4 separate regions of the Homo sapiens genome follow, and regions 1, 3 and 4 are each linked to region 2. Evidence: fine-mapped expression QTL. A gene starts in region 2. Each other region holds a variant in brackets. All regions are shown on one strand. Distances are from middle to middle. Region 1 has its middle 44 kb from the start of MMP2-AS1. Region 2 holds the start of MMP2-AS1 (MMP2 antisense RNA 1). Region 3 overlaps MMP2-AS1 (MMP2 antisense RNA 1). Region 4 overlaps MMP2-AS1 (MMP2 antisense RNA 1).

Region 1 (4,000 bases), 44 kb after region 2:
AGGCTCAAGATTCATTTATTAATTCACCTGTCCACTGACATATATTGAGGGTTTACTATGCCAGGAACTGTAATGAGGATTGAGGATGCAGCAGAGTATAAAACAAGCAAAATTCTTGCATTTAAGGAGCTCATATTCTCATGGTGGTGGAGGGAGATAGATGATACACATATAAATAAGGTAATATGCCCAAGGTGATAAGGACTATCAGGAAAAATAAATCGGGTAGGGGTTTTGAAAATGATGGATTTATGTAGGGAGATCAGAGAAGACCTCACTGGGAAGAATGATATGAACAGAGTCCTGAAGGAGGGGAGAGAGTCAGTCATGTGGATGGATATTTGGAAGAAGAGAATTCCTGGCACCAGAAGCAGCAAGTGCAAGGGCCCTGAGGCTGGAACATATTTGGCCTGCTGCAGAAGAGCGAGAACACCAGTGAAGCCAGAGTCAAGTGTGCTAGAGAGAGAAGTCGATCAGACGCCAGAGAAAGGGGGACTTGGGGAAGGGGTGTATACCATGTCGGGCCTTTCAGGTCATTGTAAAGTCTTCCTGTACAAGAAAGCTGGGAAGGTGGACAGATTCTTCACTCATTTCCATTGCAGTCATTTGTTCTTTTATTCAACTTATATTCATTGCAGCAGCCACTCTGTGCCAGACAGTGTTCTCATCCCTGTGCCATAGACATGCACAGAGATGAGAATCACCTTTGCTCTCAAAGAGCTCTAAATCAAGTAGGATTAGTTAGCCGTTAATCAAATAAACACATAAAAATAAGACCACTCCTTGGAAGGATGATGGGGGGATGATAGGGAGAACTGATGTGGTCTGGCATTCTGGGACTTTGCCCTGAGGAAGGGACGGTGGAGTGCAGGTCTGGGTGTTAGGCAGGTGGGAGCTCAGCCCCTTCAAGGAGCTCTGCAAAGGCCAGTGTGGTGAGAAGGTGGAGAGCGAGGCCAAGCCTGGTGGGAGCATGAGGGCTGGAGTGGTGGGCAATGAATGGCTGGATCTCACAATGAATGGCTGGATCTTACAACGAATGCCTTGTGGGCTGGGGCCAAGACCATCTTTTCCTTCTCCTAAGAGCAAGGAAATCTCAGAAGTGAGTAGAGAATGGCATAATCACATTTGCTATTGGAAGAAATCACTCTGGCTGCCCTCATGAAGGGGGAATCGGAGTGAATTTGAGGTCACCAGTGAAGAAGTGATTACAGTTACCAAGTTGAAGAATTACTTTGAATTACAAGTTGAAGAGTTACTTTGATAAGAGTTGAAACAAGGAGGCTGAAGAGAAGTAGATAAACCCTAGAATATTTTGCAGGTAGGCTTGGAGAACTTGGTAGCAGATTAGCCATGGGGATTAAGGAAGAAGGAGCACAAAAAAGCCTCTGAAGTTTGGGATTTGTGTCCCCAGAAGAAGGGTGACCAGGATATTGGCAGGAGGGTTGAAGCCTTGACAGTTCCCATTGCTGTGATCTGCCAGAACAGGGCTCCTGGAAGGTAAGGACCATGGCTAGTTCCCTGTCCTGCATCTCGCCCTGCAACTGGTTCACACAGCAGGCGCTAGATCCCTGCAGAGGTGAGGGTTCCTTCAAGCCAGTCCTCCTCCAGAAAGTCAGGAGAGAACATGGAAAACAAGTGGAATTGGTGGAAGCAGCATGAGATAAAAATTCTATTTGGAAATGGTGAGCATGAGGCTTAAATATCTGTGGGGTTTCTACAATGAGCTTTGCAAAAGTGGCTCGTGATTTTACTCATCAATTTCTCAAGGTGACTTTTGATTGCCATCGCCCTGGCCTGGTTCAACTCCTTCTTTCCCTGTGCCCTTCCCTTCCTCTCTCCTCCAGGATCCTCCCTCCATTCCCTTTTAGAGGTCACCTTGAAAAGGACCCTCGGAGCTCCTTTCTACTTCAAGGCCAGTGCACATGCTGCCCTGTTGGCTGTGAAACCTCTTCTCTCCAGCACACTGCACCTCCATAGCTCTTCTCTCAGTTAACTCCTTTTTG[T/C]CTTTGCCTGCCACTTGTCACCTGATCAGGTAGCTTCCCTGATCCCTTTAGTTGTGTCATTCATTCTCAGAGCATCCTGGCTTTTCCAGTGCGGCACTTTTCACAGCAGTCGTTAATTACTTATTCTTATCATTTTCTCTCCCTCTCAGTAGTTTATGATCTCTGGTGCCTAGGACCATGCTGGCATATAGGTGAATGCAATGAATGATTGTTTATGAATGGTTAGGGAATGAATGAATGGGCCTGGGTTGTGCAGTCTTAGGGTTGATGCAGCCACCAACCAACTTAAATCATCCAACGGTGTTTTAGAAAGAACACCTTTTGCTTTACATCTCCTAAGCATATCTGCATTTTATGAGACAAAATAAACCTTAGGCTAAAGGAATGCACCTCTTGTAATGGAGAAAATATTTTAAAGATATTAAATACTTGTGGTTTTCATTCTATAAATCATGTTCCCTACAGTCATTCCACCATTATTGCTCCAATGAAGGGTGAATGAAGGGTGAATGCCACCTTGAGAAGGAATATGATATGGGGTAGGAGAAGCCCAAGCCAGATGAGAAGAGGAGGTGGGAAGACACTTCCTGGCCTGGCAGCAGGGGAGAAGAAAATGAAAGACACAAATTTGTAGGGGAAGCAGGCAACGTGCCACAGGTGTTCTGACTGCCCACCTAGGGAACACATGCCAAGGCCACAGTCTCCATGTGAGCAAGAGCATCACCTGGAATATCCAGGTAGGGTAAACCTTGGGAGCAAAGTGGAGCAACCACTCTCCAGCAGGCTCCAGGGAGCAGTTAGAAGGCACAGTGTGGATGAGAGGTCTCCTCTCTCACTGTCATAAACACAAGGACTGCAAAGGACAATTTTAACTAGGAGGAGATGGTTCCAACTGAAGAAACTGAGTCATCTTTAATGAACAAGCTTAAAATATCCACTTCTGAACCCATCACCCAACACACACTGCCACTGGCAAGAGGCATGTGTAGATGGTAAGATCACTTACAGAAAATACAAGAGCTACGTTTCCTTTGTGTGTCTAAGTAGTAGCATGACTGAAATTGCAAGTTTTCCCCCGACACCCTCTAATGGTGAAAGCCTAGGGCTGGATTACTTACATGACACCTCAGGACATTTGCCTGTTGTCCCTATCCCAGCCACCAGATAGTACCCAGCATGCCTTCTCTCCCTTCTCCATATTGTCCTTTTCCTCCTCATCTTCTTCCTCTTTTGTAGTAGACATGTCCAGCACCGAATGACTACAAAAGTTCAATAACAAACATAAAATGAGGGTGATGGGGCTGACTTGGATAGCTTGCTATCTTCCAGCCCAGCTCTAGACTCTTTTATCTGAGATACTGGTGCATATGAAACATCAGCAACCAAGGGTATGTGTGTGTGTGTGTGTGTGTGTGCATGTGCATATGTGTGTGTGTTGGAGTGGGAGGCTGTCTGCCTTCATCCATGCTTCTTTGTTTCCACAGTGGGTTGTCTCAGTCTCACCTGTTCATACACAGACACGGGGGCCTCTGCACCTTTCAACCAGTCCCCCACAAAGGGTCTACACTCTTGGGTGCTTTAAATAAGCACGCTAACTCCATTGTTCTCTTGTGGTCACCCTTGCCCACAAATCCTACTGCTAAGTGAACACCCTATCGTTCCGTCCTGGATCATCCTCCAGCTCACTCCAATTACTTTCTACTCCTTCTAGGAGTTAAATATTCCTGTCATGACTTGACCTTTTTGGAAATGTCTGATGCTTGTATCATAAAACAATGGCAAGGCACTTTAATTGAATCTTTTTTTAAGTGCATACTGACATCTGATACAGAATAATAATGCTTAGCACTTGCAGAGAACTTTTCATCTTCAAAGCACTTTGCTACCATTAAAGGCCACATTTGCTGAAGATAGATTCACTTTCCTTTGTGTCACACTGAATCACATCAGACTGAATTTGGAGGGGACAAGGAGCAAGGGGCTTGCTTGGAGTGCTG
Region 2 (4,000 bases):
TTGCGAGCAAGAGCTCTGCAAAAGTGAGATGGTGTCACTGGGGTGGGACTTGTTGGCCCCTGGGTCATACGATGCTCTTGTTTGTCTGTCTGTCGATTACTGTAGCTATCTGGCTTGCCCATTCTTCATCCTGGTTGGGTCGAGGGTGGGGCTGGGCAGTGACCTGTCAATCAGAAATAAGGACATGGAAGTCTTCCAATCATAATAGCTTGCACTTGTTGACAGTGTTACAATATTGTTAGGCCCTGTTCTAAGTACTTTACATGTATTAGTTCATGTGATCCTTGCCACAGCCCCTGAGAATGCATTATTATTATGGTCATCTCTTTATGCATGAGGATACCAAGGCACAGAGAAGTTAAGAAACTCACTCAAGGTTACACAGAGAGTGAGTGTTGACCCAGGCAATCTGCTCTGGTGCCCACACTCTTAGGCTGGTGCCATCCAGTGCCCCCGGAGCAAGCAAGATTTGGCTTCTGCACCCTCAATGACATCAGTATTTTCTCTGGGCATCCTCGGCCAAAGCACCGTCCCTCTGGGGCTCTCTGTCTCTATATGTTTATTTGCCTGGTAAATGCTTATTAAGCCCTGTGCTGAGTGCTGGATATATAGCAGCAATTAACCGCAGTCATTGCTCTTGTGGCGTTTGCATTCCAGTGGGGAGACAGGCAATACAGAGCAAACAGACTCATACACAAGGTAATTTTAGATGGCTAGGAGACCTGGGAGGGATGAGGTCAAGATTATCTGATGAGGGCAACTTGAGAATGGGTCGTCAGGGAGGGCCTCTTGGAGGCCCTTGTTAGGTGTGAGTCCTGAAGGAGGAAAATGAAGCAGTCACATGCAGAACAAGGGGAAGAGTGTTCCAGGTAGAGCAGATGGCAAGTGCAAAGGCCCTGGGGTGGGAACAAGCTTTTTTGTATTTGAAGAACAGAAGAAGGCCACTGTGGCTGGAGCAGAGCGACAGGCACAATGAGCTTTTGTGGGTTTGGTTGGCGAGCATGTGTCCCCATCTCCTTGGGAGTTGTCCCTCCTCCCCACTGAGGACAGTGTTTCTGGGAAGGTGGATTGGGTTACTGTCCTGCCCTCTTCAGAAGCCAAGACAGTTCTAAGCCTTCCTCCTACTACCCTGCCAGGGTGGGGCTGTAATCTAGGCTGAGCCAATGGGACACTCATATGGTTTTTTTTTTTTTTTTTTTTTTTTGAGACAGAGTTTCACTCTTGTCACCCAGGCTGGAGTGCAATGGCATGACCTCGACTCACTGCAACCTCTGCCTCCTGGGTTGAAGCAATTAGCTTGCCTCAGCCTCCTGAGTAGCTGGGATTACAGATGCCCACCACCAGGCTTGGCAAATTTTTATATTTTTGGTAGAGACAGGGTTTCACCATGTTGGCCAGGCTGGTCTCGAACTCCTGACCTCAGGTGATCCACCTGAAAGTGCTGGGATGACAGACGTGAGCCACCGTGCCCGGCCCACTCATATGACCTCGCGTGACATAGATACAGATGGAACAATGGCAGCCCAGGCACAGCAACTGCGGGACCCTGAGGCCTGGTGTTCCCACCTTGATGTCTGCTCCAGTTGCCTGGCTCCCTTATCCTATTCTAACAAATCCCCCTTCGCTTATGTTGCCAGAGTTTACTTCTGTGGCCTACACCCAAATGACCCTACTGATGCAGTGGAGGAATGAAGGCAGATGAAGTTGGGCCCAGATGCGCTAGGCCTGGTTGGCCAAGCCAAGGAATTGGGTTGTGTTCCAAGGAAAATGAGGTCCCTGGGGATTTTTCTGGCACTGCCCTTCTGAGATGCTGTGATTCTGTGTGGGTGGCTTCCCACCTATGGGCATGACCTTAATCCACCAGCCCCTGTCCAGAAGCTCTCCCCTGCCCACCCAGGCCCAGGTCCCCACCACACTCTACCGCTAATGCACAATTGCCCTCCGCAGGCACCCAGGCAAGGTGAGCTTGGGATTACTTGTGTATTTCCCATGCACCCCCAATAAGGTCTCTCTATGGCTCAGATAAACATCTCTAAGATTTTATCCCTACCATACACTCCACCAAATGAAGAGTAAAACGAGAAGGGAGGAGAAATAGACAATCAGAACGTTCATCTTATATGTTGTGGAGCCCAGGAAGGGGACTGAGGAGGGGTCAGGGAGCCAAGGTTCAGCCAGTGCCCCAAGTGCCTCCTGCCCTTGAATTCCGAAGCATCAGGAATCAGTCACGGTAACAACAGCCAGCTGGTGACCCCAATCCCTCTGCACAGCAACAAGCCTTGGCTCTTGTTTTTCTAAGAATCCAGTCAATCCTCTTTCCTGTAAGTTGCAACCCAGTCCTCCCCCCAGGCCGGGCTGAGGACACAGCTTGTCTTCCCGATGGTGTCACCTAGAACTCTGGTTCCCCTGCTCCCTTTCTCTTCAAATAGGAAAATTGGCACAGCTTGACTTTCTTCCACTGCCCTCCCAGCCACAGCTTAGACACCTACAAACTCCCACCGCAGGCTGGAGTGCCCTGGAGCCCTAACTGTGATACCCAGGTCAGTTTCCAAATCTGTACCTTTCTGCGTCTCCTGTTCCAACTCTCAGTGAACTCAGCTGGTTCCTGCCCTTCCTCCCCAATGACCAGCCCTGAGGAATTGACAGCTAGGCCACAGCCGCCTCTTCCTCCAGCTTGACCCTAATTGGAATAAGTACCTCTATCATGGAATCCCAGAGGGACTTACGGTGGGGTTGTAGGCAGTGAGCCATGATTGCACTACTGCTCTCCAGCCTGGGCAACAGAGTGAGACCTTCCAAGAGAGAAAGAGAGAAAGAGGGAAAGAGAGAGAGAGAGAACAGAAACAGGAAAAGAAAGAAAGAAAGAAAGAAAGAAAGAAAGAAAGAAAGAAAGAAAGAAAGAAACCATTTAACATTTAAAGTTTACATTTAACAAGGGCTTACAATATGCCAGGTGTTTTACAAGTATTCATTAATTGATTCAAAAGACATTTATTGAGGGGTGTAAAATGATTATCTCTATTTTATAGATGAAGAAACTGAGGCACACAGAGGTGAAATAGCTTGCACAAATGTTGCTTAGCTGGTAAGTAGATTAGTCATGGCAAAGCTAAGCTAGGCAGCCTGCCTTCTTTTTTTTTTTTTTTTTTTCCGTGATGGAGTCTTGCTTTGTCATCCAGTCTGGAGTGCAGTGGCGTGATCTCGGCTCACTGCAACCTCCACCTCCCAGGTTCAAGCGATTCTCCTGCCTCAGTCTCCCAAGTAACTGGGATTACAGGCATGCGCATTTTTTTTTTTTTTGTATTTTTAGCAGAGACAGGGTTTTGCCATGTTGGCCAGGCTGGTCTCAAACTCCTGACCTTGTGATCCACCCACCTCAGCCTCCCAAAGTGCTGGGATTACAGGTGTGAGCCACCATGCCCAGCCCTTATAGTCTTAATAACTGAAAGACAACAGCTTCTAGAAGGATTTTGTAGCTCTCAGCATTGCCTGCCATGTCTGCACTGGGCAAGGCCTTTCCCGGGCAATTTCCTTTCCCATGACAGAAAATGGGTGGTGACCACTCTATCCTGATGTTGTGTGGTCAGCTATCTGGCTGTGGGTGCAAAAAGGATGCACTGAGACCAGGTTTTGAAGGCATTTACAGACACATGGAGCTCTTGGAAGGCTCCTCAGCTTGTCCTCTGGAGTGGTTCTCAGAGGTGGATGATGCCGCAGAAGCAGAAATGCTGCAGGTTCTCGCTTGGAACCTTCCATCCAGTCCAGGCCTGGAGGAGCAGCCATCCAGGCAGGAATTGCAGGAAAGGCTACAATCCGTAGAGAGATCTGAAAATGAGTCTATCTTAGTGAGGCAGCAGTTGGGAGCAAGAAACAGAAGCCCCCTTAGACTAACTAAGGAGAAGGGAGTCGGAGTATGATTACAAGAACCCTAGGAGGCCAGCGGCGGGGCTTGAAAATCACGGGCTCAGGCTGCACTCAGCTCTTTCTCCCTGCGGTCTCT
Region 3 (4,000 bases), 22 kb after region 2:
GGCAGCCGAAGGGTAGAGTGAAATACAATGGAATCCAGAAAAAAAAAAAGACAATGAAACTAATTAGACTCTGATGGGAAGATCCTTCCTCGTTTGGTGATCATCCATTGGTAATTAATAAGTCACAAATATTGATGTTTGAAGAAAAGTGCCAGAATTTTAACCCCTGTTTTTCCAGAAGTTTAAAAAAAATTTCTTTAGATTCTGATCTTCTAAACTAAATCAGTCAAATGATTGGATGTTGAATTTTACAGTCATGTGTTGGTGACGGATGGGGATGTGTTCTGAGAGGCTATTTCATCATTGTGCCAACCTCATACAGTGTACTTACACACACCTAGATGGTATAAGCTATATGGAATAGCCTTTTGCTCCTAGGCTACAAACCGGTATAGCATGTATCACACTGAATACTGTAGGTAATTGTAACACCGTGGTAAGCATTTACATATGTAAATATAGAAAAGGTCCAGTAAAATTATGGTATAAAAAGTAGAGAATGGTACACCTGTATAGGGCACTTACTGTGAATGGAGCTTGCAGCACTGGAATTTGTTCTGTGTGAGTCAGTGAGTGAGTGGTGAGTGAAGGTGAAGGCCCAGGACATTACTGTATACCACTAGAGACTTTATAAACACTGTAGACTTAGGCCATGCTAAATTTATAAAAAATAAAGTAATTGCACTACAGTATTACAATGGCTACCGTGTCACTAGGTGATATGAATTTTTCATCTCCGTTATAATCTTATGGGACCACTGTCATATATGCAGCCTGTCATTGACCGAAACACCATTACACAGCACAGGACAATATTGTGTTCTGGGGGAAACAGACTAGCCTATACCAGCAACTGGTTAGCTCTCAACACCTGTCCTCAAAATAATGTGCAGGTGGATCGAATTCAACTGTCAGCGGATAAAGATATATCTAATACAAGAGATGCTGGACTCCAGCAGTTAGCATTAACCCAGTGGTGGAACCAACTTGTATATATGAATGGATACAATCCCAGCTAGATTTTTGCCCCTGTATATTTTGAGGCTTTGTTGTATGATCCATGCTTTGTAGATCTGTGAAAAACATTTCCAGGCATCCAGTTGAAAAACCCTTGACCAACAGTATAAAAACGACTTTTAGCTTTGCCTAAGCATAAGGCAGCATCAAAGGGGTCTGGCTTCCTTTTGGGAAGTTCTTTTGAATGAAGTGATCAGTTAGTATTTATGCTTTTTGTCCTTCTGTATTATGCAACAGCACAAATGCACAACTGCCCCAGTGGGACAATCTAATGCATAGCCAGCCAGTCACACAGTTTTAAAGTTGGACGCATGTGTCTTTGGCACGTCCCAGGTCTCCTTTCAACTTCTTTCAGAATCTCTTTTTTACCACCCTCCAGCCCAGCGCTTGAGGTTCTCAGGATGACCCTGGGTCATTTCTAGCTTAAAGAGAGTGGGCTTTGAGAAATATCTTGATAAGTGTTAGTGCAATTTTTAAAGATGGCTAAAATGCTAATGGTGAAATTTCAGGCTTTGTGGCAGTTGGATGAAAGGAATGTTTTTGAGCAAAAGATCTTTCCAACGATCCCTCAAACCTACAATGCATAAAAGTGGACTTGTTTAGATAAGTCAGTAAATTATGCCTAATCTCAGTTTTCCTCCATGTAAAGAGGAAGAAATTAAACTAGAAGTAGAATGATCTTTAAGGTTTATTAAAGAGAGAGAGAGAGAGAGAGAGAATGGTTTGCCATGTGCAAAAAAAGGCAAGGCTCTTCCTTATAAGTAGCACAGGGATTCATTCATTCATTCATTCATTCTGTGTGTGTGTGTGTGTGAGAGAGAGATCTCTGGGCCAAACCCTATATCACAGTTCTTTCACATCATTTCACCTACCCCTTACAACAACCTTTGAGGTGGGTATTCCTAACAGGAGTGGTTGTCAATTTATTTAACTATCAATAAGCCACAGATACTTGCCAATCAGAAAGAACACTGAGTTAAACACTAGAACAGGGTCCTGGAGACCCCTGACTGTGCCAGGTATTTGTTGCTAGATGAGGAAAGAGGTGGGGAGGAGCCAGGGTGCCTGGCACAATGAAGGGGAGATTGGGAAGCTATTTGACAACTGGCCTGGGAAATGCTCTAATTTTTAAACTGCTGGTATGGATTTTGTACTATTGGATATGGCTGAACATCAGCCGTGACTTTCAATCTCCCCATTCTGCAAAGGACAAAGCTGAGGCCCTGGGAGGTCATGAAAGCTTCTCAAGATAAACCCATCAAAAAGCGACA[G/A]GCTTGAGTTGAAGGCTACTTTAAGTCTTTGAGACTCCAAAGTTGGTGTTCTTAACCATTATGCTGACTGTACACATGTCTCTAAGTTGACCTCAGTCTGTGCCAGGCTGGCCTGGCATTTCTCTACAAAGAACTGGAGGAAAGTGGATCGGAGGAAAGATCTGGTTTGAGTGGGAGTAGAGTTGGCCGATTTAGTAAGTAAAAATACAGGACACACAGTTAAGTTTGAATTTCAGATAAACAACAAATAATGCTTTTGTATATTTTTAGCTTATTGCACGGGATATATGTACACTGAAAATTATTCATTTTTAATCTGATGTTCAAATTTAACTGGACATCTTGCATTTTATCTGGCAACACTACGTGTGGAGGGAGGGTCACAGGGATGCTAAGACATTTCAAATACCAAGACACTTCAATCTGAAGAAACATTTTCTTTGCTAGGAACTCCCTTTTGCAAAGTCAATGATATCAGCTGTAGTAAGAACACTTCTAACCTTACCCTGAGTACCTCTTTGATTTTAAAGTCATAGAATGTCAAGGCAGAGGTCATTTAAGCCAATACCCTGCCTCACTGTCTTTCTGCCTCTTTCTGTCCTCTCTCTGCCCAAGAAGGCAGAACCCACAGCACCGGCGCTGTGGCTTGGCTTTGAAGCCAAGGAGCATAGCCCACGAGGCATGTCCTCATCTCCAAAGCACATGGAAACTATTCCTTTCCTGAAGGTCTTCATGGTTAGCCTGCTGCAAGTCTCATGGTTTTTCAGCTGCAGTTGTAATTTCTATAGCGCCTCCATCCCAGCTCAGCTGGTATTTATTAGAACACATTCTTTTTGAAAAGAAAACTGTTTCTTAATTAAAGGTTGGCAATCCATAGCCTGTTTGCAGATGAGAAAAATTAAGCAACTACTATGAACAGCGCAGTGTGTCTCCTCTGTTGGTTAGAACATTGCTGTCTAGACACGTGGAGTGTCTCCTGTGTTTTGGGCCGTCCCTGCATTTACATCTGAGTGCATTTTTTTTTTTTTTTGGTGTTGCACAACAAATACTAATGAACCATGAGACCAAATGGAAGAGATTTTGGAGTGAAACAAACTTGTCTTCTGTTTTAACCACTCCCTGTCACAGACTGCTTTTCAAACATAATACCTGGGCGGGGTGGGTGGGGGTTAATGAAAAATGTTTCGTGTCCAAAACCCAGCCTTACTGTCTATGCCAAAGAGTTGGTTTCTGGGGCCAAGTAGAAGCTGAGAGGAGCTGATCTTTGCCTCACCTCTGGACCAAGAATGAAATAAACTTATGAAGAATAAAAATATTCCTTTCATGGGGTGAAGATTCTTAACCTGGGTTCCATGAAATGGAAGACTTCTAAGAATTCCATGGAATTCTTAGCTTGAATGGGAAAAAAAAATGTATTTTTAAATTTTTGCTAACTTCTAACTGACAGTTAGCATTTCCTTCAATTCTGAATGTAGGCAACAACTAAAATTGTATCAGCACTACATGGGACTTTTGTGACTTCGTCATTAATAGATATCACAGATATTTTCATATCACATTATAGTTGCTACAGAGTATCTTGAAACAGACTCACTACTCTCTGGAAATTATAGTGATGAGTAGACCCACCTCTATATCTTATTATATCTTGGTTAATAAAAGCCCACATATTACTATATTAATTTAAATAATTATTTAGATAACTGTTATTT
Region 4 (8,327 bases), 35 kb after region 2:
ATTGTGAAGATGGAATGAAACAAGAAATGTAAAGAGTGAATGAAGCCGGGCACAGTGGCTCATGCCTATAATCCCAGCACTTTGGGAGGCTGAGGCAGGTGGATCACTTGAGGTCAGGAGTTTGAGACCAGCCTGGCCAACATGGCGAAACCCCATCTCTATTAAAAATACAAAAATTAGCCAGGCGTGGTGGTGCGCACCTGTAATCCCAGCTATTGGAAGGCTGAGACATGAGCATCACTTGAACCTGGGAGGCGGAGGTTGCATTGAGCCGAGATCTGGCCACTGTTCTCCAGCATGGGAGACAGAACGAGACTTCATTTAAAAAAAAAAAAGTGAATGATATTACCTGACACCTGGTAAGGAGGCAGAGGACAGGAGTATTTTTGTCATTATGGTGAGTGACAACATACCAACTCACTCATTAGTTAATTTATTTGGTAAGTGAAGATCGACTTAGTGACTAAGAAGGTTGATGCCTTTGAAAAGTGCCAAATCAAAAAATTTGAAGGTTTCTTGGTCCATGTCAGTGGTTCTCAATCCTGGAAGTGGATGGGAATAATCTTTGTTGCTCTCCCCAGATACTAGTCTGGGGACCCACCAAAGAGCAATTACACCAGACCCTCCAGGGACAGGATTTGTGGCCCCCAGAATGATGACAACTATGCCAGGTTACGGTCAGGATGGGAAACTCGTCTCAAGTCAGGTCAAGGTCATGCGCAGTCCTGAGACCAGGTGCCTCCTTACATTACACACCCTCAGTGCCTCATTTACCTGCCCTGGTCCCTGTCTTGCCTCAAACCACTAAAACAGAAACTCCATGAGGGCAGAGACTTTTTCCCTATTTTTCTTTCACTACTATCCCAGTGCCTGGAACAGCAGTGCACATATAATATGCTCTTGATAAATACTTATTGAGAGAATGAATAAATGGATACATGAATAGGCCCATCTTCCAAAGGTTCGGATTGCAGTCACCTCTTTGCTAGAGACTGCTGGATTTGCTCTACATAAACCAGAAGAGTGGAGTCCTAGACTTCAGATGCTCAGTGTTTCCAGAAGAGACCTTCAAGGTCAGCTGGGACAATTTCTTTTTTTTTTTTTCCAAACCATCTCTCATCATCATGATATTTTCCTTGTCTGCATCCCACTTGAGCTGTTATTTCCTTAATGGTGGCTTTACATCAATTCGTGCTTACTTAGAAACATCTGTCTGACAAAGAAACCCTAAAAAGATCAGTTCTGCCAAGGAAAAACTATCACTTGCCATACATAGAAAGGCAACTGTGAAATTAAGTACAAAGGAAATAAATCAAGTTATGAAATGGAGTTGGATGCTGATGCCTGCTGAGGATGTGAGCCTGGGCCTTCCCCTCTTATCATTATGAAGAGAGGGTTGAAAACATTGCAGAGGTGTTAAAGAGATGTTAGCATTGGATTGAGACTTTCTCTTAGAGGGAGTCAGAGGCTAGAAAGAGTCCAGAAGTGATACCTTTCTCTCTCTGAGTTAGTACTGTTTAATACCATGTCTTTGCATGTCACCCAAACCCATCCATGTGCTGCCCAACCATCAGTGGTATTCATCCCACTGGAGAAATCCATAGTTAGTCCCAGCTCCTTATTTTGTAAGACTTAGGTCCAAAGAGGCCCAAGTTCATATTCATTTATTCATTCATGCATTTGTTTGACATATATCAAACACCTCCTATATGCCTGGCACTGTGAACTAGACAGGCTAAGTCCCAGCTATTTTGGAGCTACCAACCCAGGGTCAGAGGAGGGGCTATACCTTTGGTCCCAGACCCCTAGTGCAGTGCTCCTTCTCTGCCCCTTCTCAGAAGGTGTTTTTGTAATCCCCATCTACACCCTACCCTCATGGGTGACTTGGGCACTTAGTGTTGCATTAACATCGTTTCCTTTTAATAAAGCAGCTACATTTTCACCCCATCCCGGGCTCCATGTTCCTGCTGCACACACATCAAGAATGCTGCTAATTTCAGCGTCTGCCTTCCAGACCCAGACGTCAAAACAACTACCTTTCATCTCAGGTTTGTAACACAGAAAACCTTCAATATTGGGAACAGATAACCTCGAAGGTGGGTTCATATCTCTCAGCACGATTGCTGTAACTTAACTCTGCTGCACCCGATCAAGGCTTTCTCTCTGCCTCATAGGTATTTTAATACAAATGTTCCTTTCATTTGGCTGATTGAAGGTCTCCAACCTGCAATAAATGAAACATCTGATCCCCTTGAATCCAAATAACTTTTTCTTTGATTTTCTTTTACTTCTATTTCTTCGTCCTTTGTTCTACAGCCCGAGTCAAATTTCCCTTTAGAAATTGAAAGAATGTGTGTGGGTTTTTCCTGCTTTTTTTTTTTTTTTAACCAAGCTCTAGTGCAACCGCTGGTTCATGGACTAGAATATTAAGATCCAATTCAATGGCAGACTGTCTCCAGCAATGTTGTATTTTTATTTTTTTTTGCCGTCATCCCCCCCACCCACTTGTGAGCAATGGTTGTACAAATTAGCCTCTGTGTACTAGTCACCGAAGCTGGCTTCCCAATTAACCCCAGGCTTGAGAGAAAATAAGACTAAAGATTCTTCCCCTCCTGAAAGAACTAAGTTATCCATGCACAAAAGCCTACATGTTGGCACCTGGCTATGGAGTTGGGCATTTAATTGCCTTTGTAATGACTCAGTCCATCTGCATGGTATTGGGTCCCCAGTTTCAGGTAATGGGCCAGAGGGGTCTTATTAGTCTCTGGAATGACCAGGCCATGTGTATTCATCACTTCGAAAGGCAAGCAGGGTCTGTGAGAAGCTGGTGAAGCTCTTTGTGTGTTCACATCTCTGATTGTGCCCTGTGTCCACACTTAGCCAGGACACCTACCCACTTAGTGGTCTTGGCTTTGTTTCTAGGGTGAGGGCTTGAGCTGTGGGTAACAGTGCTGATTATTACATGCTAGTAAGATTGTCTCCCTCTTTGAAGTGGTAGAAAGGTTTGTCCCTTCAGGGTGATTGGGTGAATATCAGAAAGCAACCACAGGAACATTTTGTTGTACTTTGCTAAGGTCTAAATATTTGTCTCCTCCCACCAAAAATTAGTGGTTGAAACCTCATCCCCAGTGTGATGAAATGAGGAGGTGAGGCCTTTGGGAGGTGACGAGGTCTTGAAGGCAGAGCCTTTATGGATGGGATTAGTACCCATATAAAAGAGACCTCAGGGAGCTTGTTCACCCCTTCTGTCATGTTGAGTACTCAGCAAGAAGATGCCATCTATGAGGAATGGACCCCCACCAGACACCCAATCTGCCAGTAACTTGATCTTGGACTTCCCAGCCTCCAGAACTGTGAGGAATCAGTTTCTGCTATTTATGAGTTACCCAGTCTATGGCATTTTGCTATGGCAGCCCAAATAGACTGAGACATACTCCTTAACCTTTGACCCACTTCTGTTTAGGCCCAGCCAGCCTTCCTGAGCCTGTGCATAGTCTTCCTGGCTCAAGGAACTCTCTCTACCGAGGTGTGATCTCCTAACTCCTGGCACTCATTTACCTA[T/C]CCATGGTTGGTAGTCAGCCTCCAAGATGCCTGCAGTCATCCCTGCCTCCTGGGATTCATATCCTCCTCCACATTGTGCCAGGATTGGGCTCTGTGGCCAAAAAGAAAACAGCAGATGAGAGGACGTGTCTCTTCTCAGAAGGGTTAGAAAAGACTGTGGCTTCCATTTTAGATGACTTTCTCTCTCTCTCTCTCTCTCTCTCTCTCTCTCTCTCTCTCTCTCCTCTTTTCCTTCTTCTCTTCCTTGGATCTCTTGCTCTGAGGAAAGCAAACTACTATGTTGTGAGCAGCCCAATGGAGAGGCCCACAAGACAACGAACTGAAGCCTCCAGCAACAACCCTGTGAGGTCAGTTTGGAAGTGGATTTTCTAGCCCCAATTGAGCTTAAGATGACTTCAGCTTCAGCAGACAGCTTGACTGCAGCCTTTCTAGAGAGCAAGCACCACCCAGCTCTGCTGCTTCTAGACCCCTGACCTCAGAAATTGCACGAGATAACATGTTTGCTGTTTCAGGCTGCCAAATTTAGGGGTAAGCTGTTATGTAGCAATAAATACCAGCACACCATGTGAGCTCGTCTCTCGAGGGACTCTCTGAGGCTCCTGATGTTCCTGGTTGGCTCCCTCAATCTATGTGCTTGTTGTCCCTTAATATGTATTTTCAGTTCTTCCTTCATAAGAAACACCCTTAGCTTTTAAGTGGATCCTTGGCTGCCTGGAATAAACACTACATTGCCCCAGGTTTTTTGGCAGTTAAATGTGATCATGTGACTTAACCGTATTCTAGTCAATGGGCATATGTGGAAGTGGTGTGTGCAACTTCTGGAGAGCACCCTTACTAGGCGGATGCACCTTTCTTTCCACTTTCCTCCTTCCTGCAGGCTGGAACTGCCCATAAAGGCTGGCACCCCAGCAGCCACCTTGAGAAATGCAGTGATGATGCTGAGTGGCAAGGCAGAAGGCACAGGGTCCCTGCACCTGAGGATTGCTGCTCCAAACCTGGGCCACCAGCCTGAAGATCCCGCCAGGGAGAAATAAAGCTCTGTTTTGCTGAAGCCACTGCTATTTTGGGGGTCTCATCTCTTCCAGCTGATTCTAACCTGAAATTGAACCTTAATTCAATCTGGCTGATCCATGAACAACCATCACGCCTTGTGCTCTGTGTCAGATAGGTTTCTTAAGGGAGAATGTCACTTACTGACAGTGATTTGTCAACACCAAAGAGGAAAAAATATCAGAGAAAGGTAAGAGGGAGAACAATAGAGAGAGAAAGAGAGACAGAGACAGAGGGGGAGAGAGAGAGAGAGAGAGAGAGAGAGAGAGAGAGAGAGAGCAGACTTGGTTTAATTTCCTCTTTTCCCTTATTACTTTCTGACATTTTCTGACCTTAATACCTTTGAAACTTAGCACTTCCCTCAGAAGCCTCCACTGTAAACAAAGCCCCAAGATTTCCCTATAATTTTCCCCTCCCCATTGGCCCATCAGTCCCCATGGGCTTCTGCTTACCAGGATGCCCAACTATTCCCCTGCAAACATCCCCCTGCCCAGTGGGCCCTAACACTCACTAGTAGCATTGCCTTTCCCCCTCTGTTCTGCCCTCCTCCAGAGGCTCCCCATTCTCTGGATCTAATGTTGTCCCAGAAGTTTACCCCTCCCTGTCCCACCCAGGCGACCTCAAATTCTCCTAGTGGCTTCCAATGACCCAGTTGTGCCCAGAAGCTTCTCCCTAACAGCTTAGGCTGTCACAGCCTTCCAGAGGCCTCACCCATCTTAGTAGGGTCTATTGCTCCTGTTCCTTAAGCCCTAGCAGTCCCTCCACCCAGTAGGCCCTGAAACTGTAATGCAGTCCTCTCAGGCTGAGGACCTGCTCTGTGCAAAGGCCTGAGAGGGAGGTGGAGAGAAGCCAGGCAGAGGCCAGATATATTAGCAGTTTTCCTAGAACAGTTGCTAAAATAGAGCAGACAGGGGCTATGGGAGTTGATCAATAGATATTCATTGAACATCTACTTTGTGCTGCGAATGATTTCAGTCATGAGGGACATAGCAGACCATAAAACAGAACAGGGGAAGCCTTCTTTAGAAGTGGTCCTGGTATATTTCTGTCAATTGACATATATTCACAAATTCACGCATCCACTTAATACGTATTTATTGAGCTCCTTCTGTATACGAGGCACTGTTCTTGTTGCTGAAAATACAAAACTGAACAAAACAGAAAAGCTCCTGCCCTTGGGAGCTTATGTTCTAGTAAGGAAATGAAATAAACAACAAACAGCGAGTGCCTTCAGTCTTATGTTCCCAGAAGAAGATGCTGAGACAAGGGTTGAAGTGCAGGTAATTTATTAAGAAAGAGCTCCCAGGAGATATCCATAAGGGCATAGGGAAACAGGGCAAGAGAGGGGGAAGAAGCCCAGCAAAGGTGCAGCTTCCCAAAGTCCCAACCTCTGCCTGATCCTGTGGAGAGCTCTGGGGTATAAATTACATCTCAGGGTCTGTCTGTCTTTGAAGCAGGGGTGTCAGGCTTTTATACTCCCACATCCATTGGCTACAGGCTGGAGGGGTGAGGGGGAGTAAATTTTGGGTACTTTTTCTCCTCTCTGCATGCCATGGGGACAAAGCAGCTGCAGAGGTTCATGGGCCAGCACAGGAAGGAAGTTCCAGGTGTGAACCTTTTAGAAGTAAAATACGTAGGGCCAGGTGTGGTGGCTCACGGCTGTAACCCAGCATTTTGGGAGGCCGAGGGTGGTGGATCACCTGAGGTCAGGAATTCAAGACCAGCCTGGCCAACATAGTGAAACTCCATCTCTACTAAAAATATAAAAATTAACCAGGTGTTGTGGTGCATGCCTATAATCCCAGCTACTTGGGAGGCTGAGGCAGGAGAATAACTTGAACCCGGAAGGCAGAGGTTGTAGCGAACTGAGATCATTCCACTGCACTCCAGCCTGGGCAACAAGAGAGAAACTCTGTCCCAAAAAAGGAGAAGGAGAAGGAGAAAGAGAAGGAGGAGTAGGGGAAAATGTGTGTAGAGGCTGGGGGTGAGCACACAGAATAAGTAAAAGGGACCTGAGGGATGCATCCATGCAATAGATTATCATAATATGATGACAGGTGTGAGAAGCATTGAGGATTTCACCACTCCTGACCCCTCCTCCATGCACAGGGGCATCCGGAGGATCTCCATGTCTCTATTCCCCTTACCTTGCTCTGCCCCAAGGGAGGTGACTTGGCTGATTGATAAGGATTCTAGGAGGAATAAACTGAATGTGAGCAGCTCTGTCCTGTCCTCATTCCTTGTCTTATTTTGGTCTCCTTAAAGACCTAGGGTACAGAAGGAAGGGCAGTGACTGGGGGATTCCTTAGGAAACCAGCATTCTGAAAAATAATGACGTGGGCAAGAGAGTGGGAGTGGCTGGTGGTCTTCCCCTTGGGGGAACTGAGAAAGCTGCAGTGAGAAAGGGGCCATGGGGATGTCAGGGAGGCTCAGGCCAGGTAGGGGAGCAGCCCCTGCACAGGCCTCAGGGTGGGGGTGTGCTTGGCACTTTTGAAGATTAGCCAGCGCAGGTGGAGCAGGGTAAACAAGGAAGAGTGTGATAGAAGATGGCATCAGAGAATGAAGCAGGAGCTGAGTTGGCAGGACCTGCAGGCCAAGCCCAGGACTGCGGGTTGGTGCCAACCAAGAGGGGAGCAAGGGCAGCTTTCAAACAGGCAATAACACAATCATGGATAAAAGGATCCTTTTGACTTCTGAGTACAGAAGGATAATAGGGGAAAACGGAGGAAGGCAGGGAGACCAGTTAGGGTGCTCCAGCAATAGTCCAGGCGAGAACTGATGGGCACTTACACCAGATTCTTCTGCAATTAGTGGTGAAAAGTGGTCAGATATGGAATCTATTTTGCAAGCAGAGCCCACAGGTTTTGCCAATGGAGTGACTGTGTGGTAGGGGAGGGAGTGGTGGCAATCAGGGATTCTACAGCAGCCACTGTTGTGCCACATCCATAGGTCCTCTCTTCACCATGTTAGAGGCCCCGCTTCTAATGGCCAGCCTGAGGTCCATTTTTATTTTATTTTATTTTATTTATTTTATTTATTAATTTTATTGCCTAAGGGCTTCCTCTGACCACTGGAGCCCACTCTGCCCGTGTGTCCAAAGCAGGCCAGAGGATCCCTCAGGGGCAGCCTCAACCGATGACTGATGGGAGATGGTGTATATGCAGCCCAGTTCCGTCACCCCACAGGGGAGGGACGTAACTCTGAGGCTTGTGCTCTGCCCTGGCTCCTAAAGTCCCCAGCAGGATGAAGCTCCAGTAGTTCATATCGATAACTTGCTTGACAACACACCCTTCATGGGGTGCATTTCTTTTCCATCTCGCTTTCCCACTTCCTCTCACTACTTCCTGAGAGCATTTTCCAAACAGACTATTCACACTCAAAGCCTGGCCCAGGGTCTGCTTCTGGAAGAACTCAACCTCAAAGAGCTAGTGCTAGAGCTTTTGGCTGGATCAGCTAGAAGAGGGGCAGTGCCATTTATTGGAAGAAGGAAGAAGTGTCAAGACTGCAGATTGGCCACGTTGGGTCAGAGATGTCTATTGGCCATTCAAGCCAAGCTGTTGAGTGGGCACGTGGAAATACAGGTCTGGAGAGTTGAGAGTAATTGTCAGGCTGGGGGAATAAACCTGAACACAGAGCATGCTCATATTACAGAGCATGCTCATATTATTCTGTGTCTACAGTAGAGCCCTGCACCTTCTGACTTTCTGTCACTAATG

The links.
Region 1: its variant is fine-mapped to the expression of MMP2-AS1 in left ventricle (GTEx, PIP 0.92).
Region 3: its variant is fine-mapped to the expression of MMP2-AS1 in whole blood (INTERVAL, PIP above 0.99).
Region 4: its variant is fine-mapped to the expression of MMP2-AS1 in whole blood (INTERVAL, PIP above 0.99). The same link has a PIP of 0.9 or more in atrial appendage.

What each region holds. Positions count from the first base shown.
Region 1 is chr16:55,416,280-55,420,279 of GRCh38, reverse strand. No RefSeq gene overlaps it. Among named protein-coding and RNA genes, the nearest start is that of MMP2-AS1, 44 kb to the left of the region's middle. The variant T/C (reference allele first, on the strand shown) is at 2,004.
Region 2 is chr16:55,460,715-55,464,714 of GRCh38, reverse strand. It overlaps MMP2-AS1 (MMP2 antisense RNA 1), which reads left to right and starts at 2,418. Exons shown (of 7, transcript NR_147198.1): 1 at 2,418-2,540.
Region 3 is chr16:55,438,701-55,442,700 of GRCh38, reverse strand. The region is part of intron 4 of MMP2-AS1 (MMP2 antisense RNA 1); the gene reads left to right. Among named protein-coding and RNA genes, the nearest start is that of MMP2-AS1, 22 kb to the left of the region's middle. The variant G/A (reference allele first, on the strand shown) is at 2,289.
Region 4 is chr16:55,423,082-55,431,408 of GRCh38, reverse strand. MMP2-AS1 (MMP2 antisense RNA 1) reads left to right here. Exons shown (of 7, transcript NR_147198.1): 5 at 1,929-2,048; 6 at 3,825-3,908; 7 at 4,439-4,612. Among named protein-coding and RNA genes, the nearest start is that of MMP2-AS1, 35 kb to the left of the region's middle. The variant T/C (reference allele first, on the strand shown) is at 3,562.